3 separate regions of the Homo sapiens genome follow, and regions 1 and 2 are each linked to region 3. The links come from fine-mapping of genetic effects on plasma protein levels. Region 3 holds a variant in brackets. A gene starts in each other region. All regions are shown on their reverse strands.

What was found. PIP is the chance, under the fine-mapping model, that this variant and not a neighbour inherited with it causes the effect. The UK Biobank Pharma Proteomics Project read protein levels with antibody pairs (Olink). The fine-mapping took linkage between variants from a reference panel, not from the people measured, so its PIPs are less certain.
Region 1: it holds the start of SELPLG, and the variant in region 3 is fine-mapped to the plasma level of the SELPLG protein (UK Biobank, PIP above 0.99).
Region 2: CD55 starts here. The variant in region 3 is fine-mapped to the plasma level of the CD55 protein (UK Biobank, PIP above 0.99).

What each region holds. Positions count from the first base shown.
Region 1 is chr12:108,628,639-108,639,444 of GRCh38, reverse strand. SELPLG (selectin P ligand) reads left to right here and starts at 5,551. Exons shown (of 2, transcript NM_003006.4): 1 at 5,551-5,705. It overlaps MIR4496 (microRNA 4496), which reads right to left and starts at 3,635; the gene lies at 3,575-3,635. It overlaps LOC105369968 (a long non-coding RNA gene), which reads right to left and starts at 10,799. Exons shown (of 3, transcript XR_007063449.1): 1 at 10,696-10,799; 2 at 3,208-5,114; 3 at 1-3,050. RefSeq lists a silencer at 4,740-4,789 and enhancers at 6,030-6,079, 7,488-7,637.
Region 2 is chr1:207,313,920-207,324,351 of GRCh38, reverse strand. CD55 (CD55 molecule (Cromer blood group)) reads right to left here and starts at 2,674. Exons shown (of 10, transcript NM_000574.5): 1 at 2,487-2,674; 2 at 1,785-1,970. The coding sequence starts at 2,586. It overlaps LOC107985251 (a long non-coding RNA gene), which reads left to right and starts at 2,223. Exons shown (of 3, transcript XR_007066838.1): 1 at 2,223-2,666. It overlaps LINC02942 (long intergenic non-protein coding RNA 2942), which reads right to left. Exons shown (of 4, transcript NR_186170.1): 4 at 10,171-10,432. RefSeq lists a silencer at 2,399-2,478 and enhancers at 3,039-3,248, 6,939-7,768.
Region 3 is chr8:133,451,136-133,461,293 of GRCh38, reverse strand. ST3GAL1 (ST3 beta-galactoside alpha-2,3-sialyltransferase 1) reads left to right here. Exons shown (of 10, transcript NM_173344.3): 10 at 1,357-6,446. The coding sequence ends at 1,530. Among named protein-coding and RNA genes, the nearest start is that of ST3GAL1-DT, 110 kb to the left of the region's middle. RefSeq lists enhancers at 7,326-7,826, 7,827-8,327. The variant A/G (reference allele first, on the strand shown) is at 2,906.

The DNA of each region.
Region 1 (10,806 bases), not on the chromosome of region 3:
GCCGCATGAGGACAGGCACTGGTTTCCTTCACCAGGATCCCCAGAATCTGGCATGATGTGCCAATCAGTACTTACTGAAAGACTGAATAGTTGAAAATGTAGACATTATCTGGGATGGGAGCACATATTGCATTATCCGCCCAGCGGTACTTTGCTCACAGAATAAGACTGTCCCGGAGCACAGTCAACTCCAGGTGACCTATGAGCCCCTTGGAGCCACCATCAGTGGCATCAGATCTGGGTTTTCCTTTATGGGGGCCTGGGAGTTGGGGAAGCCAGGGACCACGCAGGCAGAGCAGATACACAGTGATGAAGAAAGGGCTTCTGGGTCCCTGTAGCTCCCCGAGTCCATGCCTAAGGTCCAGCTTTATTTCTGATCTTAAATTCCACAAAATATCCCAGGACTCCTATTGCCAGGCCCCTGGCCTCCTCAAACAACACCAAGGTCTCTCCCCTAAAGACCCCTTCCCAGGGGTCTTTGAGGCCAGGTGATTGAGGATGTCTGCCAGAGGCATGGATTCCTTCAGCCACTACCCTCTGGGGAAGAATCACGGAGTCTGGAGTACATTTCTAACATTTGTTTGCCCTCTGGCCTTCCAGGTCTGGGACCAGCAGCGCTGGCTACCCCCAGCCCAAGCAGACCCAGTGAGCTGGGGAGCCCCTGTTTTCTTCCACTCTGGAGGAATGGCTTCATGCTGCAGTCTCCAGCCCAGAAACTGGTTCCTAGTGCCGCCCAGATTGGCAGCGAAAATCTGGGGCCGAAAGTGAACTCCCCAGAGCTCTGTTCCCATTTGAGAAAGGGAATTGAATCCTGGCTGGAGCAGGCCCACAGTGGACCATTTCCCCTTTGGATGATTCAAATCAGCAAGCTGTAGCCCGTGAGCCCCCCTAGCAGCAGGGGAACGGGGGAGGGCAGGCAGCTGGGCGTGACTTCCCCTCCTCCCTTCTGGGCCTTGCTTGCGAGCAGCTCTGTTCTTATTCTATTTCATGAGACCGTTGCTTTCATTCGAACAAAAGGTCCCATTGTGAGTAAACTGAAAAGACCACTGCCCTGAGAAACAAGCGGCACAACCAGCAAGACTCTTGCTTTCCTCGGAGGAAGGAACAGGCTTTTAATGGGCTTTGCAGTCTGGCTGGGCTCCGGTCCGCCTGTGCCCTCCTGCGCCACCAGGGAGCCTCAGTTTCCTTGGAGGGACAGTGACCACTGGCAAGGGAGGTGGGATTCTATAAGCGACGTCACCCCTGTTTTCCCCATTTTTAGGGAAGCGGACACAGGTTTGCATAGGAAGCCAGCACCTGGTCGGGGAGGGATAACAGTTCCTGACAAGTTACACATAGATTATAAAATCTCAGGCTATACCTGGCCTGTCAGTTATAGTCCTTGCCTAGCCACATATGTTCAGGATTCCACAAATGTTTAATTTTTCATTTTCTTTAATAACTGTACTGTTGACCAACCTAAGCTTGGTAAATACCAGGCTGAAGCTAAGTTGCGCTGGCTTTTGGCACCCAAGCCTCCAAGCCTTCCTCTCTTTGTCTCTATAATATGAGGCTTTATTACAGCTGTGCTTGTCACTGGTGGGAACAGTTCCCCACCCCGAAACAACAAAGAAGCAAAACGCAATTAAATAGACCACTGCACACATGCAGCTGTACAGGCTGTGGTGTTGCCTCTGGGGACTGGGGACCACCATGAGGCTGCAGGCATTTTCATCCATCAGCGAATGGAAGGAAGACTGAATTTAGTGCACGGATGATCATTTAAGTATAAAGAGGTTATAGGTTGTTTGTTTGAATACCAAATCTCTAGTTGCTCAGGATCCACTTGTAAGAGAGCTCCAAGTAGGGGCCCAATGAGCCATGTTTTTGCTTTAACATGGGGCTGTTCCAACAGTAGCAGGCAGTTAGTTACAACCAGGAGCACATTTTTCTCAGAAGACCCATAAACAGCTCTTGCTTCCTAGGCTAGCCCACTACTGGGCTCCAGTGTAGAGAGGAACCTAACACCCACTGGCTTTGCTGATTGCAATTCCTGCTCCACACCCCAAGCAGGCTCACACGGTGTTGCGAGGAGGTGGGGAGAACTGGGTCCTCTTAGACCAATCACAGCAGGCAAGGTCTGCAAGGAGGAGCTGGAATCACTTATATATTGAACCAATATTTATTGTGATTGAATGCAGGCTCTTTCATAGGACACCCTAGGTTCAGACTCTGGCTTTGCCACTTACTAGCTCTGTGACCTTAGGCGAGTTTCTTAACCTCTCTGGAACATTTTTTTTAATCTACAAAATGGGGATACTAATAGTACCTACCTCATGAGGCAGTTGTAACAATTAAACAAAGTAGTAGACCAGGCATGATGGCTCATGCCTGTAATCCCAGCACCTTGGGAGGTGGAGGCCGGTGGATCACTTGAGGCCAGGAGCTTGAGACTAGCCTGGCCAACATGGCAAAACCCCGTCTCTACTAAAAATACAAAAACTAGCAGGCCATGGTAGTGAGCACCTGTAATCTCAGCTACTAGGAAGGCCGAGGCAGGAGAATCACTTGAACCCAGGAGGCAGAGGTTTCAGTGAGCTGAGATCGTGCCACTGCACTCCAGCCTGGGCGACAGAGTGAGACTCTGTCTCAAAAAAAAAAAAAAAAAAAAAAAAAAAAAGAAAAAAAAGTAAAATAGACATCATTATATACATTTTTTCTATATACAAATATAGAAAAGAAAATATATTTAAAAGGAAAGGGGCATTAATAATTATGCCACCCAGAGATAGGCACCGTCAGCATTTCTTTCAGTCTGTCCTCTCAGCATGCAAGCACACTTGAATTATGCTGTTTATATACTTCTGTGCCCTCTCTTTTCTACCTAACAGGTCTTGAGTGCTTTATAAGCATTCAGTATAAATATAACTTTCATGCCTGCGTCACATTCCATCAAGGGACAGGTTTCTGTAGTAGGGGAGTCTGTGTTTTTTCCCAATATTTCTCTCACCTCAGATATCATTGCTTCAATCTTGGAAGGCAACTTGGAGTATTTTTCTTGGGCTTCATTCCTAGAAGCAGAAACATATTCACTTTGAGTCTTTGACTCTCACAGATGTCAGGTGCGGTGAAGTGTGGTTTTATGGTCTTCACACAGACGACATACACCAGATTTATCTTAGCAATATTTGCTCCTCTGAGAAGGAAATTTCACTGCTCAAGTCTCACCTTGAAATAGATTACTTGGAGCTGGGCGTGGTGGTGTGCTCCTGTAACAGCTACTGGGGAGGCTGAGGCAGGAGGATTGCTTGCTTGAGACCAGGAGTTTGAGGCTGCAGTGAGCTATGACCACGCCACTGCACTCCAGATTAGGCCACAGAGCAAGACCCTATTACACACACACAGAAGAAATAGCTTACCTGCTGCTAAGCTACTCCTTTTTCCTTACATATAGTAATTGCTGATGTGCTGGAGCTCACCGTTCAGCCTGCACCATCCCAGGCTAGGGGTTAAGATCAAGAACATTATTTCATGTGCCTGGACTTGAGTCCTGGCTCTGCCATTACTCTGTGTGCCCTTGAGCAAGGCACATTCTCCCTCTCAGCTTCAGTTTCCTCATTTCTAAAGGCAGCTTCGAGGATTATATGAGCTGATGTATGCAAAGCACCTACCACAGGGTCTGGCATTGACCACAGGCTCAGGAAACGTTAAGCGTTTGTGTTGTGAGGCTTTGCAGGTGATGAAACTATTCAACTCTGCCGCTGCAACGTGAAAGCAGCCAGAGACAATATGTTTACACCAATTAGTGTGGCTGTGTCCCAAGAAAACTTTATGAAAACGGAATCTCGAATTTCGCACAGTTTTTATGCATCACAAAACATTTTCCAACCACTTAAAAATGTAACCACCATTCTTAGCTCACAAGCTGCACAAAACCACGTGGCAGGCTGGATGTGACAGACAGCTTGCAACCACTCACCTCCGCTAATCAGAGAGTGACCTGCAGGCAGTCTTGGGTGTGTTTAGAGTTTCTCAGTCCCCTGTCCCTGAAGGATGGCTATTTCCAAACCTGCTGGGGAAGGGTGAGGGGCCTGGGTTCTAGGGGTCTCACTTCCCCTCTTGTGGCTTCAGTTTCCCTGTCCGTGCCGGCAGGGTGAGCTTTTGGCTGTTTCCAGCTGCAGCTTCTTAAGGTGGCTGAGACTGTGTCATGGCGAACACCTGCTGGGTCTCTGGTTTTCATTTTAAAACAACCTGTGTGCGGCTGGGCACGGTGGCTCACGCCTGTAATCCCAGCACTTTGGGAGGCCGAGGCAGGTGGATCACCTGAGGTCGAGAGTTCAAGACCAACCAGCCTGACAAACGTGGAGAAACCCCATCTCTACTATAAATACAAAATTAGCCGGGGTGGTGGCACATGCCTGTAATCCCAGATACTCGGGAGGCTGAGGCAGAAGAATAGCTTGAACCCGGGAGGCGGAGGTTGCGGTGAGCCGAGATTGTGCCATTGCACTCCAGCCTGGGCAAAAAGAGTGAAACTCCATCTCAAAAAAAAAAAAAAAAAACAACTTTGTGCAAGGCAAGATATGAGTATCTTTCTGTGCATGTCCTGAGCCCTTGCCTGGTGCAAAGCCGCAGGGCAGATCCTGGGAGACCCCCCTATTCCCTCCCTTCTGGAAGTGTCTGGGTATTCTTAGGCCTCCCAGCCTTTGCCTCTGCTGTGCTCTCTGCCTGGGATGCCCACCTGGCTTGTCATCTCAAGTGCCACTTCTTGGAAGCTCCTCCTGTTAACCTCCCTCCCCCACCCAGGATGGAAGGAGAGGCCCCTCCCTTGCTCACCGCAGGATGGCACTCACTGCGCTGTGTCATTGTGGCATGATGTTCCACCGAATTGTTTACTCGCTGGCCTCCCCATTGGATGGAGGGCTACCAGAGGGCCACAGCCCAGAATTGCTGGCCTTTAGACCTCAGGGCATGCAGTCTGGAGTGCCAGAGTTGGTCAAATGAACAAATTTAGGATGAAGAAATAAGATAAGCAGGACTTGCCCTTGTGGTATCTGTAGTCCAGCTCCCTAGAGAGGCTCTTGGTTGCAGCTGAAAGGGCCTGTGCTGTGCATCTACAGAGAGTGTTTTGAGTCCTGCGAGAAGAAATACACCATATTTGCAAACCCTTTGAAGGTTCATATTTTGTGTTTTTTGCTCCCTGACCACCTCCCACCCCTCCCCACGCCCCACCAATCTTGGGCAAGAAGCGAGACCATTCTCCTTTTTCTCTGGTCACTCCTGTCCTTCAGGGGGCTCCCTCTGGCCCCGACTGTCCATTGCTGCTGAAGTAATGCTGTGGCCTTTCTCAGTTTGGGCCCCACCCAAAACCGAAGAACTTCTCCCCAGAAAGCTTCTACTTGGTTCTCAGTGTTTTCACAGTTATGGGAACCCAAGAACAGTGTCAGACCTAGGAGGTGCCCCACTACCACCCTGTCTTTATCAATGTTGTCACCAAAGCTGTCACAAACAATGGGGTGTGGGCTGTCACATGGCCCTGCCTAAGTAACCACATTCTCGCTTCCTCCTTCCACACACAGCCATTGGGGGTTGCTCGGATCCGGGACTGCCGCAGGGGGTGCCACAGCAGTGCCTGGCAGCGTGGGCTGGGACCTTGTCACTAAAGCAGAGAAGCCACTTCTTCTGGGCCCACGAGGCAGCTGTCCCATGCTCTGCTGAGCACGGTGGTAAGTGCTGGCTTGCAAAACCACAGGGAGTGGCTGGAGGTCCCCATGGGCCAAGGGCCTGCCTTATAGCTGCTGGCAGGCCCGGGTAGGACCGCCAGGCCCTTCTTGAGCTGCAGCACCTGGGGAGGGCAAACTGAGGCTCCTCCGACTCAAGACTAAAGTCTTCCTGGAGTCTGTGGCCTTATTCTGTGACTCTTCTGAATCCTGCTCCTGCCAACTTTTTTTTTCCTTCTTTTTTTGAGACAGGGTCTTACTCTGTCACCCAGGCTGGAGTGCAGTGGCACAATCATGGCTCACTGCAGCCTTAAACTCCTGGGCACAAGTGATCCTCCCACCTCAGCCTCCTGAGTAGCTGGGACTACAGGCGCACATCGCCGCATGCAGCTAATATTTTTACCTTTCCTAGAGATGGGGTCTCACTTTGATGCCGAGGCTGGTCTCAAACTCCTGGCCTCAAGCCTCTTGCGTTGGCCTCCCAAAGTGCTGAAATTACAGGTGTGACCCACCAGCCCCAGCCTCCCATTAACTTACTTCCCTCCCTGGCCAGTTTGCCTGCAGCGTCTGGCTTGGCGGCATTCTGATTTTGAAAATCAGAGAAACCATGAGTGTTTCCCTAGAAATGATCTTATCCTCTCCTTTCCTGGATGGGAAACTGAGGTCGGGAGAGGTGAAGGGATTTGTTTAGGGGCAGAGCTGAGATTAGGTCTGGAAGACTCCAGAAAGTAGGGGGAGTGCAGGATTTCTCTTGAAGCTGCATGTTATGGACGCATAAAAAAGTTCTTTTCAGAGAAAGATGCATTCTTCCCACTTTTTATAAGACTGAGGAAATGACACTTGTCTGTGGCAAACTATTAAAATATTAGAATTAAGATACTATTGTTAGCAAAAGGGAAAACAATAATAATAATAATAATTAGAATATTTGGCTGGGTGCAGTGGCTTACACCTGTAATCCCAGCCCTTTGGGAGGCCGAGGCAGGTGGTTGGCCTGAGCTCAGGAGTTCTAGACCAACCTGGGCAACATGGTGAAACCTCGTCTCTACCAAAAATACAAAAACTTAGCTAGGTGTAGTGGTGTATGCCTGTGGTCTCAGCTACTTGGGAGGCTGAGGTGGGAGGATCACTTGAACCTGGGAGGGGGAGGTCGCAGTAAGCCGAGATTGTGCCACTGCACTCCAACCCGGGTGGCAGAGTGAGACCCTGTCTCAAAAAAAAAAAAATTAGAATACTCTTATTAGTTTGTATTTGAGATACTTTCAGGACACTAAAAGGAAATGGTGGGGGCCAGTTGTGCCCTGCTGTACACACATTCACACACACACACACACACACACACACACACACACACACCCCATATTGTCGATATCTGGGCTTCTGTTGCCTGGAATTCTCTTCCTCTTTCCTCTTTCTTCTGTTTTCCTTTTTTTTCCATCTCTGACTTTGAGGCCCCCAGAGCCAGGCCCCTCAGTGGGCCGGGGCCTCAGAAGGTGGCTCCCAGGCCCTCAGACAGCCCCAGAGTCTCTTCCGAGGCCGTGCCCTGGGTGGTTGATGCCTCCCTCAGCAGGCTTGGCCAGCAGCCAGGGGAGTTAAACCTCAGAGAGCGGAAGGGCTGGGTTGCTAGGCTGGGCCCAGAGTGGGGCATTCAGAGGAGCTGGGGAATCAATCATCCGAGAACCTTGGAGGGTGGACAGTGCCCCTTTTACAGATGAGAAAACTGAGGCTTGAAGGGGAGAAGCAGCTGCCTCTGGCGGCATGGCTTCTGGCTGCAGGATGCCCATGGAGTTCGTGGTGACCCTAGGCCTGTGTCTCGGCTTCCTTTGCTGAACTTGAACAGGAAGATGGCAGTGGGGGCCAGTGGTCTAGAAGGAGATAAGATGGCTGGTGTGTGTGTGTTGGGGGTCTGTGTTTGTTAATCTGTCTGTCTACACAGGGGTGTTTAGAAAACTGTTTAAAGACAGTTGTTCAACTAACCAGATGTAGGTCTCATTGAATTCATTTGTGCCAAGTACCTTACTGCCTCTGGATCAGGCCAGCAAGTTTGGGTTCCAACAGGTGTAACTTGGTTCTTGGTGGGGTGGAGGGTAGGGAGGGGGGTGTAACAAAAAAATCTCAACTAACACTGTGGTTTGCAAGCCACCAAACATTAAACAGATATACAGCATATCTGTGCTATTAACTTTTCATGAGGAGGGCTGGTCACCGTGGCTCATGCCTATAAATCCCAGCACTTTGGGAGGCTGAAGCAGATGGATTGCTTGAGCCCAGGAGTTTGAGACCAACCTGGGCAACATGGGGAAAACCCATCTCTACAAAAAATTTAAAAGTAGCCGGGTCTGGTGGCATGCACCTGTAGTCCTAGCTACTTGGGAGGATCGCTTGAGCCCAGGAGTTCAAGCCTGCAGTGAGCTATGATTGCACCACTGTAGTCGAGCCTGGGCAACAGAGAAAGACCCTATCTCTAAAATTAAATAAATAAATAAACCTTTCATAAGGGCGATGATAAGTGGGAAAAAATGTCTACAGAGACTCCCTGATGTGAGTTGAGGTAGATGACGGAAAGAGGTTGCAAAGTGTCAGCTGGCAAATGTGGTGTGAAAAGTGTGAAGACAGCACGTGCTGTGCAGTTCTGTGCACGTTCCCCTGCCTCAGTCACATGTCCTCTTCTGCAGAGGCATTTAGTGAGGCCCCTGGGGATGCCAGGAGACCCAGGAGAGCTCCTGCCCTCCAAAAACTTGTGGTCTGGTGGGGGCAGCAGAGCAGACAGCCACAGTGGTTGCCAGCCACTGGGGCGAGTGTTGCGAGGGGTGTGTGCCTGCCCATCGGCTGAATCCTGGGCCTGTGGCCTGATCAGCAAGACAGCTGTGGTTCCTGCCTTCTGGAAGTTTAGGAGTCAATGTGAATACATTTTTAGAAAATAAATGAACAGCAGAAATGATTTAAACACGGGAGGTGACTAATCGTGCCTGGGGCAATCTGGAAAGGCTTCTGGGAGGACTCAGCATTTCCCTGGCCCTCTTCAACCCACAACAACCCCATAAAAAGCGGGTGCTACCATTGTCCTTGTATTCCAGCTAAGGAACCCACAGCTCAGAGAGGTGAGGTGAGTTGCCCCAGGTCACACAGCTTCTAAGGGACAGAGCTGGGGATTGACCTGGTTTGATGTGACTCCCAGGGCACAGCAGGGCAGGGCAGGGCCTGTCCTGTCTACCCAGACTTAGATCTGCTGCCTGTGCCTCAGTTATCTGGGGTCTTTCCTTCTCTTGGTGACTACTTGACCCAAACCCTGAGATGCTCAGTCTTTTGAATTTTAGCATTCCAAGATCCTGCCCGCTCTGACCACCAGTTTCAGGATTCTCAGTGCAAGGTTCCTAGCGGCGTGGAGCCCCACGAGGATCTTTCCTGAGCAGCTCAGGGCGGCCACACGGCGGGTTCTCTGGAGCTGGAGTCTGGGCCCCCTGCAGCCTGCTCCTCCACACAGCCTAGATGGGGCCCATATGGGGTCTAGATGGGGCCTGGGCCAGAAGCAGCCTGGTTTTAGGGCGAAAGAGGCAAACGAGCAGTCTCTGACCTACTCTGTTAGGCAAGTGTTGAGACAAATAGGACGTGGTCACTGGAGACGCCTCTGTCGGAGCCCTGCCCTGGCCCCACTTCTGTGGGACTGTTTTTTGGCCTTCCAGGAAGAGGAGAGGTGGAAGGTGGGGCCTGGGAGTGATCCCGCCGCTCCGGGCCTTGCTTGCTAATCAGTGTGATGGCACCGTTAGAGCCAGTGAACACAGGGGTGAGGAGGAATGAGGTCACCAGATAGTGAGAGGATGAAATCATCCCTCCGTGGGAGGGGCTTCCACATATGTCATTTTTATTGTTGTATAATACATTTACTGTAGCAAATATTAAGGAGGTATTATGCTACCTGCCATACACGGTGAGAAAACTCAGCTCCTCCCCCTTCTACCTGTGTGGCCTCAGCTGAGACAAGATCTCTCAGAGCCTCGGGTTTTCTTTTCTTTCATTAAAAAAAATATGTTTTTTTCTTAGAGACAGGGTCTTACTCTGTCACCCAGGCTGGAGTGCAGTGGTGCGATCATAGCTCACTGCAGCCTTGACCTGGGCTCAAGCCATCCTCTGGCCTCAGCCTCCCGAGTAGCTGGGACTACAGGCATCACCAGCATACCTGGCTAATTTTTAATTTTTTTGTAGATATGGGTCTCAGTATGTTGCCCAGGCTGGTCTTGAACCCCTGCCTTCAAGTCATCCTCCTGCCTTGGCCTCCCAAAGTGCTAGGAGTACAAGCTCGAGGCACCGTGCCTGGCTGAGCCTCAGATTTTCTTTCTGTTAGATGGGCTGATGCCTGCTCAGCTGTGGCCTGGCTCCAGGCTGCTGTGTCTTAAAGCCAGTGGGATGGCAGGGACCAGGCTGGGGTGACCAACAACCCCCCACCCCCAGTTTGCCTGGGAGTGAGGGGTTTCTGGGGTTGAGGGACTTTCAGCACTGACACCAGGAACATGTAGGATAAGGTGGTTGCTTTAGACGGGCCCAGGAAAGGAGGTCTGGGCTTTCCGAATGTACCAGGTCTTATCATAACAGGTACGGAGGTCTCTGCTTTCTCAAAGCCCAAACACCCACAGGGGAGGTAGAGAGGCCGCCATCTCCATACCCTCTGAGTCTGAGACCTCCATTTCCTCTGCTCATCTGCCTGCAGCGCCGAAGAGAGTCCTCCAGATAAAGTACCCCCGGCTGGAAGCCAGCGTCTGGGAACTTCCATACACTCATTCAATTCTCATGATGATTTTTTTTAAGCAATATTGCCGGTTTTACAATGAGGAAACTGAGGCTTAGAGAGGGTGAAGCAACCTGCCCGAGTTTACACAGCCGCTAAGTGGGGGCAAATGTGGGATTCAGGCCCCAGCCTCTCCTCCACCCCAGCTGTCTCTGGGTGCAGGAGGCTGTGGGGATGGCTGTAGGGGAAGGGTGGGCAACAGTGACAGCCTACCTGAAGAACTGGGCCCCAGCACCCTCCGTGTTTCTGTGTTATTCTCCCAGCCTCCGGCCTGCTGCAAGTCCGGCCCTGACTCACCAAGATGCCTCCCCCAACCCGGGAACC
Region 2 (10,432 bases), not on the chromosome of region 3:
GAAGTAGAGTTGGTACACACATATCACTATCCCCACTTAAAAAAAAAAAAAAATTTAAGTTGCCTGGCCCAGTTCTGGCATTCAATAAATGTTGGTTTCCTTACCCTGCCCTAAAGAACTACACAGCACCATACAGTACAGGAATAGGGTATTTCCAGACCCCTGGACTAATGTCCTGCACAACAATAATAGCAGCTAATATTTATTTACGTACAAACTCATTTAATTCCCATGAGCCCTGGGGGCAAGGATGAGTCAATTGTATACATAAAGTATTTACACCTGTAAACAGATTGCCCACAAATTGTATACATAAAGTATTTACATCTGTAAACAGATTGCCCACAAATGTGAATCTAGAGAGGCATGGTCAAGTGGAAGGGTCATCATTGGATTTGTAGTCAGAAGACCCAAGTTTACACCTTGGTTTTGGCGTAAAAGCTGCTGCTCTTGAGGAAGTTATTAAACTACTGGGGTCTGTCTCCTCCGCCATAAAAAGAGTGTAAGAGCCCCAACTTACCTCATAAGGTTGTTTGGAGGATTGGATAAAGTAATAACATGGGGAAGAGTTAAAACATGATACATGTGCAAAGACTATGTACTTCATCCTACTGCCTCTATTGTGGATAAAAATAAAAAGTTAAAGCCTATTTCACGCATGGCTTCTAAAGGTATTTGTGCCAATTTCTGTATTTACAGTAGCTTCTATTGATTTAAGTTGTTCAAAGTCAGGTTATCGGGTCTCTTTATCTTTATCTCTACTCATATATCTCAAAGCTAATACAGGGCTATGTAAGTAACAGATTTTTTTCCTCCAAGATAATGCCAATATATATTTTATGAAATCAAAGGGCACATAAGGTGTGGATGACTGTATGTATATTCACCTAAAACAAGAAATCTTCATTTCTTTTAATTCTACTAGGTATCAGTATCAAACACGGTTACTGTGTTAGCCCCCAAACAACTCTTCACTGGGCCTCTTATTCATTTTTAACAATCAACCTATCTACCTGTCTATATCCCAGTTTATACATCTCTCTCTCCCTATATATATCTCTCTCCCTATATATATATATCTCCCTATATATATATATCTCTCCCTATATATATCTCCTTATATATATCCCAATTATATATCTCCTTATATATATATATCCCAATTATATATATCTCTCTCCCTATATATATATCCCAATTTATATATATACATATATTTTTTCAAAGTAGCAAGAAGAGAAGATTTGGAATATTCTCCACACAAACACCAAGTGTTTGAGGTACTGGCTATCCAATTACCCTGATTGATCATGACACACTGTATGCATGTGCCAGAATATCACATGTACCCTATAAATATGTACAAGTATAACAGATTTTGAAGTAAATATTGAGAGCTTTTAAAAATGCCACCACAGAGTTGTATTTGGTAAGTCCTACTTTATAAAATACTTAAGAAAACATATCATTTACGCTATGTGTCTCAAGGCAATTGCCAAATATATTTTATATGTTTACTCCCTAAACAATACCTATTGTTTATTTTCTCTACTAGTTCGTTCAAGAGGTACAGTGTTAGGAAGAAAAACTCTTAATGAAGCAGCAGGACCTACTCAGGGTGGTAAATGTCTTCAATTAGCTGGAGTGTGACGTGCCAACAGGGTATACCCTGGGGTTTAGTAACGCTAGAGAACTATCAATTACTAGTCACTCCAAAGGTATATAAAAATAAATTTAAGATACATTCCATTCCCAGAACTTTTCTAAAAAGATGAAGAACTTACGATTGCAGAACTCTTCAATATCTGACCATTGACTGCCCTTAAGGCAGATCACTGAGTCCTTCTCGCCAGGAATTTTCACAAAGCTTTCTTCACATTTGTACGTTATTACAGTATCCTCGGGAAAACTTGTACGGCCTTCCAAAGCTGGCTGGGCATTAGGTACATCTGGGGGAAGGCCACAGTCACCTAGGGAGACAAAAGCAGAACTGAAGGAAATGACTATCAAGTGTCCTCACAGTTGCTGTTTTCAAGACACAAGCCCCCTTGAAATGCCACACCTGAAAGAGATGACATGCAAGTTTGCAGCATCGTGTGCTCCACACGGCTGGACTCTGTCGAGAGTGGGGAACGGTCAGCGGTCTGGCCTCCCATCCTTTTAGACCAGCTTTTTGGGGGTTAAGGATACAGTCTCTTTGAGCCCTCCCTTTCGATTTTGCCAGGCTTGGCTGCTCCGCAAACCCAGCCGGGGCCTCTTTAACCCTCCACGCCGACCCCTAAAGCCAAGTCAGCTGGGGGCCGACACAGCAGGAGCCCCAAATGCTGGTGAGCGGCGAGAGCCTTAAAGGCACAGGACGGCGGGAACCACGACCGCGGGCCAAGCTCCCCACCTGCCAAGTCGCCGGCCCCTGTGCGTGTCTCAGAGACCGACTTGGACCTCCCACCCAGCCCAGGGGCTTCCCCGGCCGCCGGGCCCCTACTCACCCCACACGGCCGGCAGGCACAACAGCACCAGCAGCAGCAGCCGGGGCAGCTCCCCGAGGAGGGGCAGCGCCGCGGGCACGCTCGGCCGCGCGACGGTCATGGCGCGCCGGGTTAGAACAAGGACGCGCCGCCGGGACTCCGCCGAGTCGCAGCTACGCCCAGCGGCCGGAGCGAGTTGCAGTAAGCAGAAGCCTCGTGGCTCCGCAATACCAGTTAAATGAGTGCTTTGGGCGGGGTCTGGGCTGGGGCTCTGCGTCACCAAGGGTGGGACAAACAAGACGGGTGGAGTAGGGGTTTGTTGTGGTCAGAGGTGCGGTCAGAGGGCTCCGGCGTCATACGCCCCGGGGGCCCTAGACTCGGGGAGAGTGGGGAGGGGAAGGAGGAGGAGCTCGCTGGCAACACCCTCTGGGACTCACTCTCTCCACTGCTGGGTGGGGCCTGCGATGACCTGCCTTCTAGAAACCTAAATATCTCCTCGCTACGTAAACACAAACGGGGTGTAAACGGGAGAGGGGGAGGGGTGCTCAAGTATCGCAGGCCTTGCTGCCCGCACGTGAGTTCGTCTAAGCGGAGCATCCCCGCGCTTGAGTGCTGCCAAGGGGACCTGCAGGTGCGGTGGAGTTCGGGGGCTGAGACTCAGGCGCTGAGACGCGGTGCTCTACCCGCGTCTTGGGCCCTCTACTGGGAGGTCTGTCAAAGGCCAGCACGAGGGTGGGGAAATAACTAAGGAGGAAGGGCGTCATCTCCTAGAACACTCTCTAATGTGAAAACAGAGACCTGGGGAAACAGGTTGAATAACACAGTAGGGAGTGAACATTGTTCATGCCTTGTTCGGGTGGGAGTCATTTTCTTCACCCGGGTTCTCCTTATTTACGAAAGACACCACTTTGGGATTACTCCAGACTGACTGTAGAGAGAAATTCACCAGTGTGCGTGTGTGTATGTGTGTGTGTGTGTGTGTGTGTGTGTGTGCGCGCGCGCGCGCGCGCCTCGGGGCGGTGTGGGGTGGGATAACAATAAAAACAAACAGACCCCAAAACGCTGAATGGTGGTGGGGTGGATTTTAAGAGGAAGGCTTGTTACAAACCCTTTAGAATAAATAGCCTGAGGTTTGCAAGACTGGCCACACATTAGAATCACGTGGGGAGCTTATATATATATTTATATTTATATATTCATATATATTTATACATATATAAATATATATTCTTTAAGTTCTGGAATACATGTGCAGAACATGCAGGTTTGTTACATAGGTATACACGTGCCATGGTGGTTTGCTGCACCCATCAACCCAACATCTACATTAGGTATTTCTCCTAATGCTATCCCTCCCCTAACCCCCACCCTCCAACAGGCCCCCGTGTGTGATGTTCCCCTCCCTGTGTCTGTGTATTCTCATTGTTCAACTCCCACTTATGAGTAAGAACATGCAGTGTTTGGTTTTCTGGTCTTATGTTAGTTTGCTGAGGTTGATGGTTTCCAGCTTCATCCATGTCCCTGCATAGGACATGAACTCATCCTTTTTTATGGCTGTGTAGTATTCTATGGTGTATATGTGCCACATTTTCTTTATCCAGTCTATCATTGATGGGTATATGGGTTGGTTCCAATCCAGAGGCCCAAACTGCACCTTAGACAAATTAAATCAGCATCTTTGGGGATGGGACTGGGTATCAGGATTACTTAAAGTGCCACACTGTGCAGCCAGGTTTGAGAACCACAGACCTATATGGTACTGGTCAGAGTAAAGATCTATCCAGCTTAGGACCACCCCTGTCGAAAACAGAAAGGATATAGATGGCAAGGTGGGTTGCCCTTCTTCATAGAGAATAGCCTCAAGAACATGCTTCCCTGTAATAATTTATCTGGGTCTGGCTAGCAGAGTCCTAGCCTAGATTCCTTTTCCCTTAAATGCCTTACCTCGTTAAGTGAAATTCCCTACTTGGAATTATACTTTGGTCTATGGACCAGCTGTGGGGGTATTTGTTATATCCTATCATTATATTCTTTCCTGAAGGTTTTCTGATAGCTCTTTCCTGGTTGGTATGAGCTTTTTGAGGAGGAAAACAGCAATTTTTCAATCATAGCATTTTCTTTGACCCATACCTACTGTATAGAACCAAACCTTGTGTTGCCCATTGCTGGAGCCAATCCTACAGTGATTCCAAGCAAGGGACTACTGTAGGATTTCACTGAAACCTAACAATATTCGAACATTGTGGAGTTTAGAAGTTATGGTGGGGGGCTTTTAAAACCATCTAGTGTCATCCTCATATTTGATGTTAAAATATCTAACCTTTACTCCCATATTGGATATAAAAACACAAGGTATGTTAGGTCCTGGCAGTGTTTAGAAGTGGCATGAGGTCTTCATTTATTCCCCCAATAACCTCCAGTAACCTTAACCACCACTCCCTTCTGTCCTGCCATTAGAGATAGGTAATCTTCATTCCTGCTTGGGCTCACAGAATTGGTGTGAAAGGCAAGGTAGCATTATGAAAAAGACAGGTTCAAGCAAGACCAGTTATGCAGCTGTTAGAAGACTTAACATTGAAGTCTGTTAAAGCTCTCTACATGTTTATTATGTGAATGTCATAGCTTTATATGGAGAGAAAACAATGAGCTCTGCAAAGTGTCAAAAATATTATCTCTATCACACAGCTCAGTGACACTAAATGTCCTAAGCATTCACCTTCCAGCATACTTAGTTATTGGCAATAACTTTTTTTAAAAGGAAATTTTGGCCGGGCGTGGTGGCTCACGCCTGTAATCTCAGCACTTTGGGAGGCCAAGGCAGGAGGATCACCTGAGGTCAGGAGTTCCAGACTAGCCTGGCCAACATGGTGAAACCCCGTCTCTACTAAAAATACAAAAATTGGCTGGGCGTTGTGGCAGGTGCCTGTAATCCCAGCTACTTGGGAGGCTGAGGCGGGAGAATCACTTGAACCTGGGAGGCGGAGGTTGCAGTGAGCCAAGATCGCGCCATTGCACTCCAGCCTGGGGGACGAGAGCAAAACTCCGTCTCAAAAAAAAAAAAAGAAAAGAAATTTTACGAACAATTACTGGATAGAGTCTTAAGTAATAGTTACAATCAGCCAAATTTCAACATTCTGAGGGGAAGGAAACAAAGAAATCCACTATGTATTTACTCAATTTAGAAAAGAGATCTATGATAAAATCTAAGCATTCCTCAGAAAAAAGCAAATATGTGAATTTATAACTTACTAAAGATTATTTTAAATAAATGGCCTCATTTGTTGTGTTCCAGTTGCTTTATACACATTATACCATTTCACCAACACAACTTCATGAAGTGAAGATAACTATCCATATTTTGCAGACAAGGAAACAGGCTGAGAGGCTGTTTACCAAAGCCCATGCACTAACTAGCGACCAGGTCAGAATCTAAACCTAGTTTGATTCCAAAACCTGTACTTCTCCTGTCCTGCCGTACTACATTCTTTTTATTGGAATGAGCAAAAATTTCTTGTATGCAGAGGATGATGAATTAGGTACTTGGGGAGGTGATTTGGGAACCCAGGGGCTTATGATATGAGAAGTAGTTCCAAGGCTTCATACTTATCTACCAGAAACTATCAGTGTGTCCTCAGCTGAGTCACTGCACCTCTCAAGGGCTTATTTCTGCATTGATTAAATAGCATTTGGCACTAAAATAGTCTCTATAGACCTTCCAATCCAAAACAAGCTTATGTAATTAAGTCAAAATACAAAGAAAATAGGTTTATGATTTTGACAGAGCAAGGGACCACGGTTCTTACTCTTATCCCAGGAACCATACAATGACTAAATCAAAGACTGTTTAATAAACTTCCCTAGTATACAGAAACCCACTAAGTGTCAATACTTGTGTTTGAGAATCTACAATCTAGTAGGGAGGTTTTCCATGATAAATGCTATACAAATATCACAACCAAAGTGGTATGGGGCTTCAGAAAGGAAAGAAGGGAGTGTGGTAATTGGAGCGGGGAAGGCTAAAGGCCCAGTGATTCAACTAAATATGACAAGTGTCAATGCAATAGGGCAAAAATAGGAAAAGAGATGAGATACGAACAAAGGTTTGGGGTCAGTCCTGTTGATTCCAGGAATAGTAAGGAGTTTAGTTTAGGGAGAGTATGGAGAACTGAATTGAGGCAATGGCAATGGAACAAGAGGGTAAGAGAGGCTGGAAAGAGATTTGAGAGAGCCTTAAAGGCAAGGCCTGTGCCTTTTACACCATTCAGAAGCATTAAAGGACGGTTGACACTTGTAAGGAGGAAGCACCTGGGTAATTTGGAATTTGCATCTAAGATGCTGGAATGGGAATGGCTGTGTAAGCAAAGATCCAATTTAGCTAATTACAACAGTCCAGGTGTTTAGAGAACAAAAATGTCTTTTAGTTTTAAAATTAATAAATCTATATTAAGGAGTTCCAGTCCTGTTGCTCTGTAAAACTCCTGACACAATTATTATAGACTTTTGAATTTCCATTCCTGCTCTGACCAAACAAGTTTCAAAGTAATAAGCCACAGAATTTGGCAACTGATTAGATAAGGAACAGTGGGGAAAAAGATGTTGAAGAGGACTCGGAAGTTTGGAGTTTGTGAGATTAGCAGCCCTATTTAAAAGAACTATCCATATTCAGCTTTACACTTGTTGAATTTCAAATGCCTTGGCAGAGTGTCTACGTGGAAATGTCCAGCATGCGATTGAAACGGAGGCAAGATTGAGGTGGAGTGGGTAGAGATGTGACTGCAGGCAAGGTTTGAACCAAGGGAGCATAGCATGTGGAAATAGAGAAGCCCAAGGTGTGAGACTTGAGGAGCCCCACGTTAGAAAGTACAAATGACAGAGAAAGGGAAAGGAGAAGGTAGTGGAAAGGAAAGAGGATTGTGCAATTTCTTGAAAGCCAAGGAATACAAAACTGTGAGCAAATATTATCACCCTCATTGCAAGTGAACCAGCTGGTGTTTAGGGAAGTTAAGAAACTAGCCCCAAACCACATGGCTTGCTGGCAGTAGAACTAGTGCTTAGGATCTTAACACCTCTGTTAGACTGGCCAGGCAACATTCCTCCAGAAAATCTCCCTTGCCATTGCATCATACCTGGTACCTTCCTCTATGCTACCAAAGTATGTAATGTGCCTATCTATGCCTCACATCTGAGGAACCAGTCTATTTCATATTTACATTCTAACTCAGCCTAAATTTATTGCCAACTTATCTTAAAATAGCCAATGGGCGGGGGGTGGGGGTTGGGGGGAGCTTTATATTGAGGCATTTTTGTCATGCAGCTGCAAATACAGGTAATTCTGCTTCACAGAATAAGGGTATTTTTTAATAAATGAAAACAAATGAGTGGACTCTCCCATTTCTTATACATGAGTTCTTCAGGAATTCACTAATCAAGGTATCAGTGTATTGCAGCAGACATAGTAGTTTTTTTTTCACTAGGTGCAGGTTCAGCAGGACCTGGGAAAAAGTGGTCTAATTCCATGTGACATGTTCACCTATGAAATGGCATCCTGCCCTGCAGCTGACTTCCCTGTGTGTGTGAGAACAGGCTCAGCAGCCAGGGGGAAATGCAATGCTTGACTTATGTGAGCAAATATTTATTTGCCAAGATCTAACTTTCTGAGACAACAGTGAATTTTTGCTACCTCCACTTTGGAGGTAGGGGCAGGAACAAGAAAATGTGTGTGTGCACACATGTGAGACTGTGTTCATGTGTGAACTTCAAACACAAATTTAGGTTTTGCAATAGTAACATTATTTATAGGAGCAATTGGGAAGGTTAGGAATCTTGTAGCCTTTAGCTGCATGACTCCTGAGCCATAATTTTTAATCTTGTGGCTAGTTTGTTCATTTTAGTATGTGTGTGCAAGAATGTGAGAATATGTTTGCATGTGAGAGTGTATGCATGTATGAGTGTGTAAGCGTGTGTGTGCATGTATGAACGTGTGTGAGCATGTGAGTGTGCATATATGAATGTGTGTGAGCATGTGAGTGTGCATATATGAATGTGTGTGAGCATGAGAGTATGTGCATGTATGAATGTGAGCATGTGAGAGTGTGTGTGCATGTATGAATGTGAGCATGTGAGTGTGTGCATGTATATGTGTGAGCATGAGTGTGTGCATGTATGAATGTGTGTGAGCATGTGAGAGTGTGCGTGCATGTATGAATGTGTGTGTGCATGTGTGTGTGTATGAAAGTCTGAGCATGTGTGTGCATGTATGAATGAGTGTGCATGTGTGTGCATGTATGAATGTGTGTGAGCATGTGAGTGTGTGTATGAAAGCCTGTGTGAGCATGTGTGTGCATGTATATGAATGTGTATGAGCATGTGAGAGTGTATGTGCGTGTATGAATGTGAGCATGTGAGAGTGTGTGTGCATGTGAGAGTGTGGTCCAGCACCCAACCGCTCTGAAACACAAATTTCCCACTTATAAAACAGGTGTAATGATATTACCTCATAGAGGTTTTGTGAGGAATAAAGGAAATAATGTATGTAAAGCATTTGGCCCATTGCTTGGCACACAGTACTCTATAAATATTAACAATAATGAATGATCATGGGTGATGACATGAATGAATGTTTCCTATAACAAGACTTGGCCACTTTTCATGAAATCTATAAATACAGCCATGTCATGACATACAGTTTTAAAATTCTGTAAAAGCAATATGAAATTCTCATGTATTAGCAATGTGGAGATCATTTAGTTGTTTTCCTTATTCTTTCCCCACTCAGTAGTATTTTTCCTTTAGCAAAGATTAGGTCATTTACCAAGATTCAGAATTGTATAAACATTGGATTCTTTACCTCCAATGTAGTCCCATCTGCAGTTTGTTTCCCTTGATTTAACAGCTTGCAAGTTAAGCAGATTTACAATTTAAGCTTACTAGAATTGCACAAGGGTAAGGAGGGAAGAAAGAAGAAATTTACATTGAAGGGATCACCTTCCATTGATACTCTCACTTTGAGACTTAACCTTGGTTAACCATCCAGCAGTGCCATGAGTAAACTATTATTACTTACAATTGCACATGTTGGGACAGGTTCAGAGGGGGAAATGATTGGATAAAACAATACAGATGGCAAAGCCAAGCAAAATTTGAACCCAGTTCTGGGGAGATTTAAAATTATGCTCCGTCCACTCTACGTGTTACCTTTTATTTGTTGGTGCATAATGAAGACTAAAGCGTTCCTCGATCTTTCTCAAAGTGTTCATCGGTGAGTATTTTCCTAGCACTGTTCTTTCAGATGTCAAATAAAATCCATTTACCTATATGATGATCATTTCTCTAGGATAAATAGTACTTTCTCATATAGCCAAATGTTCTGCTATGAAGAAGGTAATTTACTTCAGACAAACAATAATTGCAGGTTTTGTTGAAAACACTTCTGTTTTCTCAAGTCCCCCATCTGATACCACCTCCTCTACTACTTCTGTGACATCCTTTCCCCCTCATGTTTCCAGACCATGTGGCCTCATTTTGATGTCATTTAGTCCATTAGCCCAAAGGTCTATAATAATTATGTCAGGGTTTGTTTGTGTGTGTGTCAGGTTTGCATGGAAAAGAACCAATTTAGAAACTTCTTACATAACAGAGACTTACCATATGACCTTATATTTCCAAGTATGGACCCAGGAAAAATAAAAATGTCTACAAAGATTTGTACATAAATGTTTATAGAAGCTTTATTTATAACAGCTACAAGCTGGAAACAATTCATAAGTAGCTGAATGGTTAAACAAATTGTGGCACTTCCATACAATGAATACTACTTCACATTAAAAAGGAACAAATTAATGATACACACAATAGGGATGAATTTCAAAAACTTGCTGAGCAGAGGAAACTAGGCACATAGAGTGGATATTATATGATTTCATTTATATGAAGTTCCAGAACAAGCAAAATCAACTTATGATGATAGA
Region 3 (10,158 bases):
AGGCCACACAGCCCCCACTTCCTCCCTGATGTTGGGTTCAGGCAGGGCCCTCACGTGTCCCTTCTTGTCTCATTCAGCCCAGCCCCAGCCCCACCCTGCCTGGTGCCTGGTGGGAATCTCAGAAAGGGTCAGAGGCATTGCAAGGCAGGTCCCCAGGCTCAGCCCCACCCTGGTGTTCCCAGGTAGAAACATGGGTGCCCCTGTCATTTCCCCACCCCACCCACCTCCAGCCAGCTGGTCCCAGACCCTTGCTTGAGGTTCTGCTCAAGAGCCCTTTCTCCCATCGTCCCACCGATTTGGCCCTAACGTTCTTGCCCTGGAGCAGGCCCATGTCCATGTTGCATTTCCTGAGAAAGCCACATGTGGCATGGTGCTGTCCCCGTCCCCTCTTTGTCCCCACCCCTCCAATCTATCTTCCACGCTGCAGCCCAGATAGCACGTCCTCTCCCTGGAAGCCCCTCCATGCAATTCCTTCTGGTCATCTTGTACTCATTTTCCAAGACCCAACTCACATGCCACCTCCTCTGAAGAGCTTCCTCTGACCTCTCAGGGCATAGCTCCTCCCTCCTCTGTGCTGCGGGAGCCCTGAATTTAGCCCCATTTCCAACAAGGACCACTCAGTCAGTGACTCCAAGAAGCTATAAGCTCCAAGGCTGCTTCCCCCTGCAGCTGCCCAGCTGGCATCTGATCAAGCTCTGCCTGAACTTCAGTACAGCCAGCAGGGTGCTGGGCTCAGAATAAATGCACAGGGTTTGTCATGTATGTGAAAGGCCTGGTCTAGTGGCCCTGAGGGCGCCTGGACCAGATGAATGTTGGCCACAGAGAAGAAAGGGATCAGCCCTGCCCTCTGCCTCACTGCAATCATGATTCTTGGACCCATTTTCCAGATGAGGAAAGTGAGGCTCAAAGAAGTGACTTCACATGCCCAGGGCACCACGGAGTGGCAGAGCTGGGATTTGGGGCAGTTTGCTTGGCCCCAAAGCCCTGCTCTCCTTCCACTCTCTTCCATTCCACGCCCTCCTTCCTATTCCTTCCCTCTGTAGCTCCTCAATCCTGGGAGAATAGGTTGCACTTGCTGCAGAGGTAAGACCCGGGCCCCTGAGACCACCCAGATGCAGTAATCTCTCAGGGTGCTTCTGGAATTAGACTTGAGTTTTACTTAACTTGCATTTGCTTCACCAAGACTCTGAGAGTTCCAGGAACGTAGAGAAGGGTTTTTAATGAAGGGTTAGTCAGAGTCCTTGGAAATGCTGTTTATGGTCCTGTGGGATTCCAGGAACGCCTACAGGCTTCCTTTCTCAGAGGTGCCACCAGCAGCCCTGCTGTCTGGTTCTCATCTTTGCTTTGCTCCCACAGGTGGACTTGTACGGCTTCGGGGCAGACAGCAAAGGGAACTGGCACCACTACTGGGAGAACAACCCATCCGCGGGGGCTTTTCGCAAGACGGGGGTGCACGATGCAGACTTTGAGTCTAACGTGACGGCCACCTTGGCCTCCATCAATAAAATCCGGATCTTCAAGGGGAGATGACGCAGTGAAGGGCTGAGGATGGACGCACTGTCACACCTCTGCATTTCCAGCCCCAGCATCTTGCTGGAGCCGTTCCATCCCGGAGCTTGGAGGGGCAGCCTCAGGTGTGTGCCTGGGCACCGCTCACAGCCTCTTGCACCCAGCCGTTGGCAGCATCTACTCAGCAAGGTCACTAAGCTCTGCCAGCGTGGCAGAGCATGTCTTGGAACCTGTCTTGAGTGGGGACAACGTCCCCCCACTGCTGCCCTAGAGCTGGGGAGACGCTGGGAAAGGTTCAACCTCCACACACTAAAATCATTTTGGCTCCTGGGGCAAGCTTGGGGAATGAATGTGGAAGATGCCTATATTCTGAGAGACAGGACAGTTTCCCAGGAAGATGGGCAGAGACTTGAGTGGCGATTACCTCCAGCACAGAGACGTGCCAGGCGGTGTTGGCGCTCGGGGCGAGATGCTGCCCTTCTTTGCACGAAGCCTGGCCTCTTGCTTGGCGTGATAACCCTGTCATCTTCCCAAAGCTCATTTATGAGCCACCAGAGGCTCCTACCCCAAAGATTTTCACAGAAACTTGAGGCCAGGTGCCGTGGCTCACACCTGTAATCTGAACACTTTGGGAGGCCGAGGCGGGAGGATCACTTGAGCCCAGGAGTTCAAGACCAGCCTGGGCAACATAGTGAGACTCCTGTCTCTACAAAAATAAAAGATTTAAAAAAATTAGCCAGGCACGGTGGCACACACTTGTAGCCCCAGCTACTAGGGAGGCTGAGGAGGGAGGATCTCTTGTGCCTAGGAGTTCGAGGCTGCAGTGGGCTGTGATCACACCACTGCACTCCAGCCTGGGCAACAGAGTGAGACCCTGTCTCTGAAAAAAAAAAAAAAAGAAAAGAAAAAAAACCCCAAACTTGGCACCGTGTTTCTGACTCCTGCAGATGCCTCTTCCCAAGCAGTTGTTCCTTTGAGTAGTCAGTCTCATGGTTCTAATCGTGGCGAGAGCGGATCTGACCACTTCCATGTGCCTTTGTATTTGGGAAAGAAAAGCATGCATTGGCTGAAATGAAACAAAAGCCCTTACTTGGGAAAAGGGACCCCCACCAGCGGCCCTGCTTGCTCCGTAGCTGGGAACATCTTTTCTGGTTTCCTGAGCCAGCACCTGAATTGCAACGAAGCTCTGAGGATACTCAACACCACCCAGCAGTGCGTCAGAATGGAACGTACATTCTCATTCTCAGACTGTTCAATATGGTGCCCGTAACCTCCAAAGCCACACAGGAGGCTGCCAGCAGCATTTTCCCCAAGGGCCTGAGCTCAGGGTCAAGTCCCTGCTGGCCATCTTGGGGCTGTCACTGGGGGTCTGGGTCAAGGACATCCCAGGAATGGT[A/G]ACTGCCACATACCTCATCTTCTTACTCCCCAGCTACTCTCTTTTCCTCATTAGCCTTCCTGATTATTTATTGATTTCTTTTTTTTATTCAACTGACATTGTTTGCACCCTGGCTCTGTTGGTGGTCCTGGTGTTTTAATGAAGCTTGCCTCACCCAGTAGCTGGGAAATTAGGTGGGGGTGCTTAAGGGAGGTTTGTAGGAGTCCTCGGACGTGGGATATTGGGGGTATCTAGGGCTTGGATGGTTTGTGGAATGTCCTCAGCATCCTCCCGTCCCAACCCAACCTTCCTTCTTCCTCATTGTGGACTTGGATTTATTCTCAGGCTAGGAGTCTCCAAAACTCCGTGAAACCTTATTGCTGCTGGGTGTGGAGTGGAGAGTGACAGGAATGTGGGGGACGGTGATTGTTGGCTCCAGTTACTAATGTTTAAGCAGAAAAACCACTTTCTTGTTGAAAATATCCCTGAAAAGGTCGCTGCTGCTTTGAGGAGGCGTGACTTTTTCCTGGTGGAGTGTGACGGAGGCATGGGGCCTGTGCTCCCAGGCTCGGGGGAGCCCCCTCTGCACACGGGGAGGGAGGAACTTGGGGACATCAGTCATGGGTCACAGGTGGCTTCAGGCCATTCACAAGAGTCCCCGGAAGTTGCGTGCCAAGTTTGGTTTTTTCCCTGAATCTCTGCATATGAGCATTTTTCTGGAGAAAGGACCATAGCTTTTATTAGATTCTCAAAGGTTCAGAATGGGGAATGTGTTAAACAAACCGAAAACCTGTTTCAGCTTTAAAATCCTCCAAAACTTTAAAGACTTTTCTTTTTTCTGAGAAAGGCTGGTAAATCACTGAGTCATCATTCAGAACATACAGCCTCGAAGGGCAGAGCTCACACCCATATATGACGTTAAGAGCTCAACAAATGTTTGTTGAGTGACTGAGTGACCCCAGGGGCAGACTCCAGATCATCAGACACTGATACAGAGAGCGATGCTATCTCCTCAACTCTCCCTCTTCTCCTAAAAGCTGAGTCTATATAGGGATGACAGGCTCAGGCTGAGCAGTCGACTTCTCTGGGTTTTGCTGTGTAAGAATAGGTCCCTCAACATGAAGATGTGTCTGCGTCTGAGCCAGATGCTGCCTGGGTCGGTTGCCTGGCCTCCGTCTGGTCTCCCTCCCTCCTACTAGGGTGGTCAAGCTGTGAGATCTCTTCCAGCCTCCAAATCCAGCTTTCCCATTTTACTGATGAGAAAATCAAGGCCACATTGCAGCTGGGTGGGGAGTGGAGCGTGACAGGCACGGGAGAGGACAGCGATTGTTGACTCTAGTTCCTGATGTTTAATCAGAAAAACCACTTTTCCTGTAGAGCACATTTCCTAAAAGGCTGCTGCTGTGTAGGGAGGTGTGGCCTTTTCCTGGTGCAGTGTGAAGGAGGGAAGTGACGGGCAGTCGTGAACTGTCTGGGACAGATAGCACAAGTCAGAGTTTGAGCAAAACTAGGGTGTTACCGGCGCTATGTTGAAATTGTCTGGAGGCGGGCTTTCCCAGCGAGTCTCCATTCAGCATCTGGAAAAAGTGTAACCAGAATGGAGGTGTCTGACTCTCCTGTGCTCTCTCAGCGCCGAGCTCTAGCTGCAGGCTGCCTGGGTGGCCTTCTCACACCCTCCCGTGCAGGAGACTGCATTTCTCTTTCCCACAGCCCAGCAGATAGCTCATTGGCTTAGCAATGGGCACTTAACAGAATCCAGTTGTTGCAGCCAGAATTAAATGCACCAGTCTGGCTTAAACCAACTGGAACTCATCCCTGGGGTGAAGGTGGCTGGGAATTAGACAAGAGTGTGTGTTAGCCAAAAGGCACATGCATGCTGTCAGCAGGAGAATGAGGAGCACTGGTTCTGGGCAGGCAGTGGCAGGGGCTCCCTCAGGCCCCTGATTCCCAGCCCACAGCTCTTTCTACTCTGCAGACAGAGTTCCTTGGAGACTGGCCCTGCATTCAGGCAGGGAGCAGAGGGGTCCCTGCCTGCAGCACCCAGAGCTGAACCTGAAGCTACAAAGATGGGCTGATGAGGTGGCCCATGAGGTGTCAGCAACATCCCAACCCCCTGGGTCTCCCCAGTGAGTCAGGGCACTGATTTGCTATAGCTGGAGCTACATGCACCTCTCCTCCCCTCAGCCACCTTTTAGGGGAGAAAGGAGGGCAGATTTGTAACCTCTGGTTCTCTGCAGGGATCCTGGGCTGGAAGAAAGTTCATAAATGGATGAATGCCTTTTAAAACTCCAGCTTTTCCAAGCATCATTCACCAAAGCATTTGGTTAGGCTTAGAGAGAAAAGCTGGATATGAGAAAATAGAATGTAAAATAGGAGGGAAAAAAAAAAAGAAGGTGGAGAGGGCAGTTAAGATCTGGGTGATTCTTTAGGGAAACGGCTGGTTGAGAGGCTTTGATGGAATCCCATTCTCTGCTGTGGCCAGAAGGTGGTGCTAGAGGCCAGTCCCACTTGGATGTGACCCTGGCCTCTGCCAGGATTCAAACCACAAAGAACATTTGGAACTGGGATGTTTGCTTTGAAGCAGCCCGAAAACAAGTGAAAGGAAACCAAGATAACTCTCTCTCCCTCCGCTGGCAAGGATCAAAAATACCTTGTGCAGGGAAGCCCGAGCCTCGAGGGGCCACTGCCCAGCTAAAGATGACTGGACACCAGCCATGCACCATCAGGAACCAGCACCTGTCCTCACCCCTGAGAAGAGCCCCGGGGGTATCATTATATCCATCGCAGACATCTGGTTTGCAGCAAATGTGGCTACACGCCATCAGGATTATCCTGCCCTGTGGACTGGGCTAGCTAGTTTTGAGATAGAGTCAACCTCCCCATTTTTGTTTGTCATGAAAACACCAGCTCCTGCACCCCTGGGGTGCTACCTGACACCTGTGCAAAGAAAAGGAGGAAAACTTAGAAGAAAAGGCAGAGACAGGCAAGACAGCATCTCACAGCTTGTCAGGATCAGGGCATTACCGACTATTTTTTCTTACCAAAAGAGCACTGAATTTCCTAGGGGAAGGTGAGCCACCTTTACACCTCCTGTCCTCCCTCCCAGCCCGTCAAGCGATCCCATCACCCAGCCTCATCACTCAGCTTCTTCCTAGTACAAAACTGCCATCGGTTGTACGTCCTGAGCTGTGGGACGTCAGCTTTAACCCTAGCCTGTCTCAGGGCCTCGCCCTCCAGCCCCCCGCCCCTTAGGGTGATCGTGGGTTTCTTCCCTTCCTCCTGCACAATCGCTTCCCTTCACTGAATTCCCTTCAAAGCCAAAGTTTCTTGAGCACTTTTTCTTGTGTGCAGTCTTGTGTGTTTGGGTGTTGGTGTTTTTAAATTTGCTTTCTATTCCCCCCTGCCTCTCTCCATGTCGTTACGCAGCTGAGCACTGGTTGGGATGCATTCGAATGACTTCAGCAAGATCCTGCTTTCCTCAGCCCCCGCTCTGTTTTATTTATTGTTTAATATTTCCAATGATCCAAATCAAAGTGAATAAACAAAGAGCTATTTTATTGTTTGGGTGTGTTTGTTGCTTTTCTACAAGGGTCATGCATTTGCGCCTCCTTCAACACTCCAACTCAGAGGGCCTCCTGGGTTGGCGTCGCCACTACCGAATGGCCAGAATTCAGGATACAGAGGAGAGCCCCAGCGTAGGCCTTGGAGAGGCCTCTTCTCAAGCCCAGGAGTCCCATTACCTGCCGTGTGACTGGCGAGTCACCTAAGTTCTCTGAACCTCAGCTGCGTGTCTCATGTATTAAATGGGCGCGACAACACTGGCCTTCAGAGGGGATGTGGGAGTAAAAACAAAAGCATCTCCAGAGGCCCAGTAGACATGCACCACCTGCTTGAACGTTTGCTGAGTGAATTCACCTTGGCCAGGGCCTGATTGGGCTGGGCTAGTGTCTGTCCTCCCCCGACAGAGACGGGCACACCCAGGGATGGACAAGAGTTTGGTCCAAAGTTGGCACTAATCTCCCTTTAAAAAAAAAAAAAAACAGATTCAGAAACCCAATGTTGCGAGCCTGTAAGATAAAATTGGTATACACAGTAACCAGGCCTCCCAGTTTGTATGGCACACAATACCTCCATGGGCGTGATCTTTAACTCAGAACAGCCCTGCGGGCTGCTGCATGGCTGAGGGCGGAGGTGGGTTCACAGCCAGGCGCCTCTCTCCAGTCCCGGGCCTCCTGTCTGCCCTGCCGCCTCCCTGTCACTCTGTGCTTAGCAAAGACGTTGAGTTATTTGAGACACTGTCTATGGGGACCTTCTGAGGGCAGCCCCCAGAGGAAGGATGGGGCAGAGATTCACACAGGGGCTCTGGAGCCAGGCCGCCCTGGGTCCTACCTATTAGCTGTGTGAGTCCGAGCAAGTTACTTAACCTCGCTGCCTAATCTCCTGATGGATAAGTTTGGAATGATATAATACCTCTATATAAATACACATAGAGGATAAAATGAGTTAACACACGCAAAAGGCTTACAACAACAAATGTTAGTTATTAGTACATCAGACACGGGAGAGGAGAAGGAGCTGTGTGCAAGACTGAAATGAACAGCAAGGCTCTGTCGGGGAGCCCGGTCTGTTTCCCTCCCCCCATGCCTCTGTCCTGCTCCTGCCCCCTGCCACGGGCCTTCATGTTGCCTGTGTATCTTCTTTAAGTTGTTTCTTCAACTCTAGAGTTCCCTTTCCTCCTTGCCCTATCACTTCTCTGTCCTCTCCCTACAGGGCCCTGCCGTCATCTGGCGCTAACACGCGCTCCCACCCAGCCATCCGTTCTATAGGAGACACAGCCTCCCCCAAATTCGCTCCTGGTTGGCCTCACATCACAGCTGCAATGTGGACCAGCGGCCACGAGGTGGTGCTATGCTGCAGTCGGCCCCGCCGCCCGCTTTTCCAGGCCAGCTCTGTAGGGCTCCAGCGCCTGGCCGCCCTGTCCTGCACATCGCACCCTGGTCTCAGGCTAGAGCCCATGGCCAGGGAAAGAAATTGTCAGGGCCCTCCTTGGACAGCCCTGAGGGCCTAAAGGCATTCCTCCAAGACACCCCGGCACCTGCCTGGAAGCTGGGACCAGAGCCAAGGCCCATCTGCTTCTGCACCCCCCCGACCCCTCCCCAAAATGCAGATCCTCCCAGGATTTGGCCTGGGAACGCTGGGAAGTCCTAGGAATAACCGCGAGGCTGCTCCAAACACATGCTTGGCCGTCAACAAAAAGCGAAGGGACTAAAAAGAAGTTCCTAAGTGGAACTTTCCGATTTCCTCTTCGCTTTCCCAGGATATTTAATGTGCACAGGGATTGAAAGGAGAGTGTGGCGACCCTGTTGGGTCATTCTCTACATTCAGCCATGGCTGGTGTTTCCCACCCATGCCCCCTCGTTTTTCTTTTCTTTCTTTTCTTTTGTCGATGGCCCACAGTGACCAGGGGTGACCCTCAGAGGCTGCCACTTTGCCCCTGACTGTGAGTGAGCACCTTCCAGGGGCAGCCGTCCTGCCTGACCACAGTGTCACCTAGCAGGGTAGGGGGTGGGGGTGGCCCTGTCCTCCAATGTCCAGTCATAGGAGCCTCCCCGCTTGTCCTCCCAATGCCTCTGGCAGGTGGTTTATTCACACAGGATTCACTGAATGTCTGCATGCCACAAAAGGAAATTGTCTGTGTGCCCTCAGAGTCTCCTCCCCTACTAGGGGACAGAGGCTATCTGAGGCATGTCCAGGAAGCTGATGCCCTAGGGGACCTGGAGAGGAAATATCTATGATTCTCCAGGCCTTCCTCGCCTGCTGGGGAAGAGCCAGCCTCTGCTGTTTCCATTGCTTCATTCAAGGATTCTGGGGGTCATTTTCAAACACCTGTGGGATATTACCCTGATGACATTCCCTATAGCAATGATGGTAACAATGTATCTATCTGCCCTGCCCCCTCCCTCCCTCTGATGCCTGTGCTGGGCCCAACCATTCCTGGAGAACAAGGTGAAGCTTCATCCACGTGTCAGAGTCAAAGCTCTCCTGGTCATTTTCAGCTGAAACTTGAGGTCCTCATAGTTCAGCAAATTCCAGGTTACCTGCTTCTCAGAGATGCAGCTGTTACGTGCCCGTATCCCCCCAATATCTTGCAAGTGCTTGACTCCAGTCCTACTGCTAGAGACTGAATTGTGCCACCCCCACCCATGCATATGTTGAAACCCTAAGACCCTGTTGGGGTGGTATTTGGAGATGGGGCCTTTGGGAGGTAATTAAGGTTTGATGAAGTGACTGGGGGCTCTTATGATCAGGTTAGTGCCCTAGAAGAGACCCCAGAGACTTCTTTACCATGTGAGGCTGCAGTGAAAGGCAGCCATCAGCAGCCAGGAGGAGGGGCCTCACGAGAACCCCACCACGCTGGCTCCCTGATCCCAGATTTCCAACCTCCAGAACTGTGAGAAAATACATTTCTATTTAAATCAGTGATCTATGGTATTTTTTTAATGGTAGCCTAAGCTGACTCACATGCCCACACTAACACTGCCACCATTTCACAGGGTAAGGGACCTCAGGCAGGCAAGGGACTTGGCCTCTTTGAGCCTCAGTTTCCCCCCTCAAAATATAGAAGTAATAATAACACCTGCCCTGAAAGGTTGCTGTAAGGGGTAGACTAATGACCCATGTCTGCCAAGCAGGGGACATGGAGTAGCGGGCTGCAGATGGTGGTCGAGGAGGGAGCTTGGTGCAGGGAACCATTTTCTCCCTCTCCCCAGCCCTAAGCCCCCCGAATACGGCAGCTCTGCCCTCCTCTGATTCCCTTGGAACTGCACCTCCTGCAGGTGGAAAAGACTCAGCTGACTGATCAGACCCTGGGGCCCTCAGCTCAGTCACCTCTCAGCTCAGCTGTGAAAAGCAGAGGCTTCCTGTTTTCTGGGCCCCCACGTGGCTCCATGTGGCTCACCTTCCAGGCTGATGGGGCTGCCGCAAAGAGGAGGTTGTGTTTGGGTATAGAAAGTCAGTTCAACTGGATGAGATAACGAGCAGGGACATTTTGCTGCAATTCTAAGCCACATGCCCCAATTCAGCTTGACTCAGAACACAGCTGCAGGTGGTTCCTGAATCAATCCCTCCATTAGCTCAGAGCCCATACTGAGGGTAATGGGATTGAGGCCCTAAGACCCCACCCACTTGGAGACAGAAATCTGGGCCTCATCAGGCTATAGATCACGAAGCCCTGGGTCTGCATGTGGCCTGCAGGGAGTTGAATGAGATGGTCC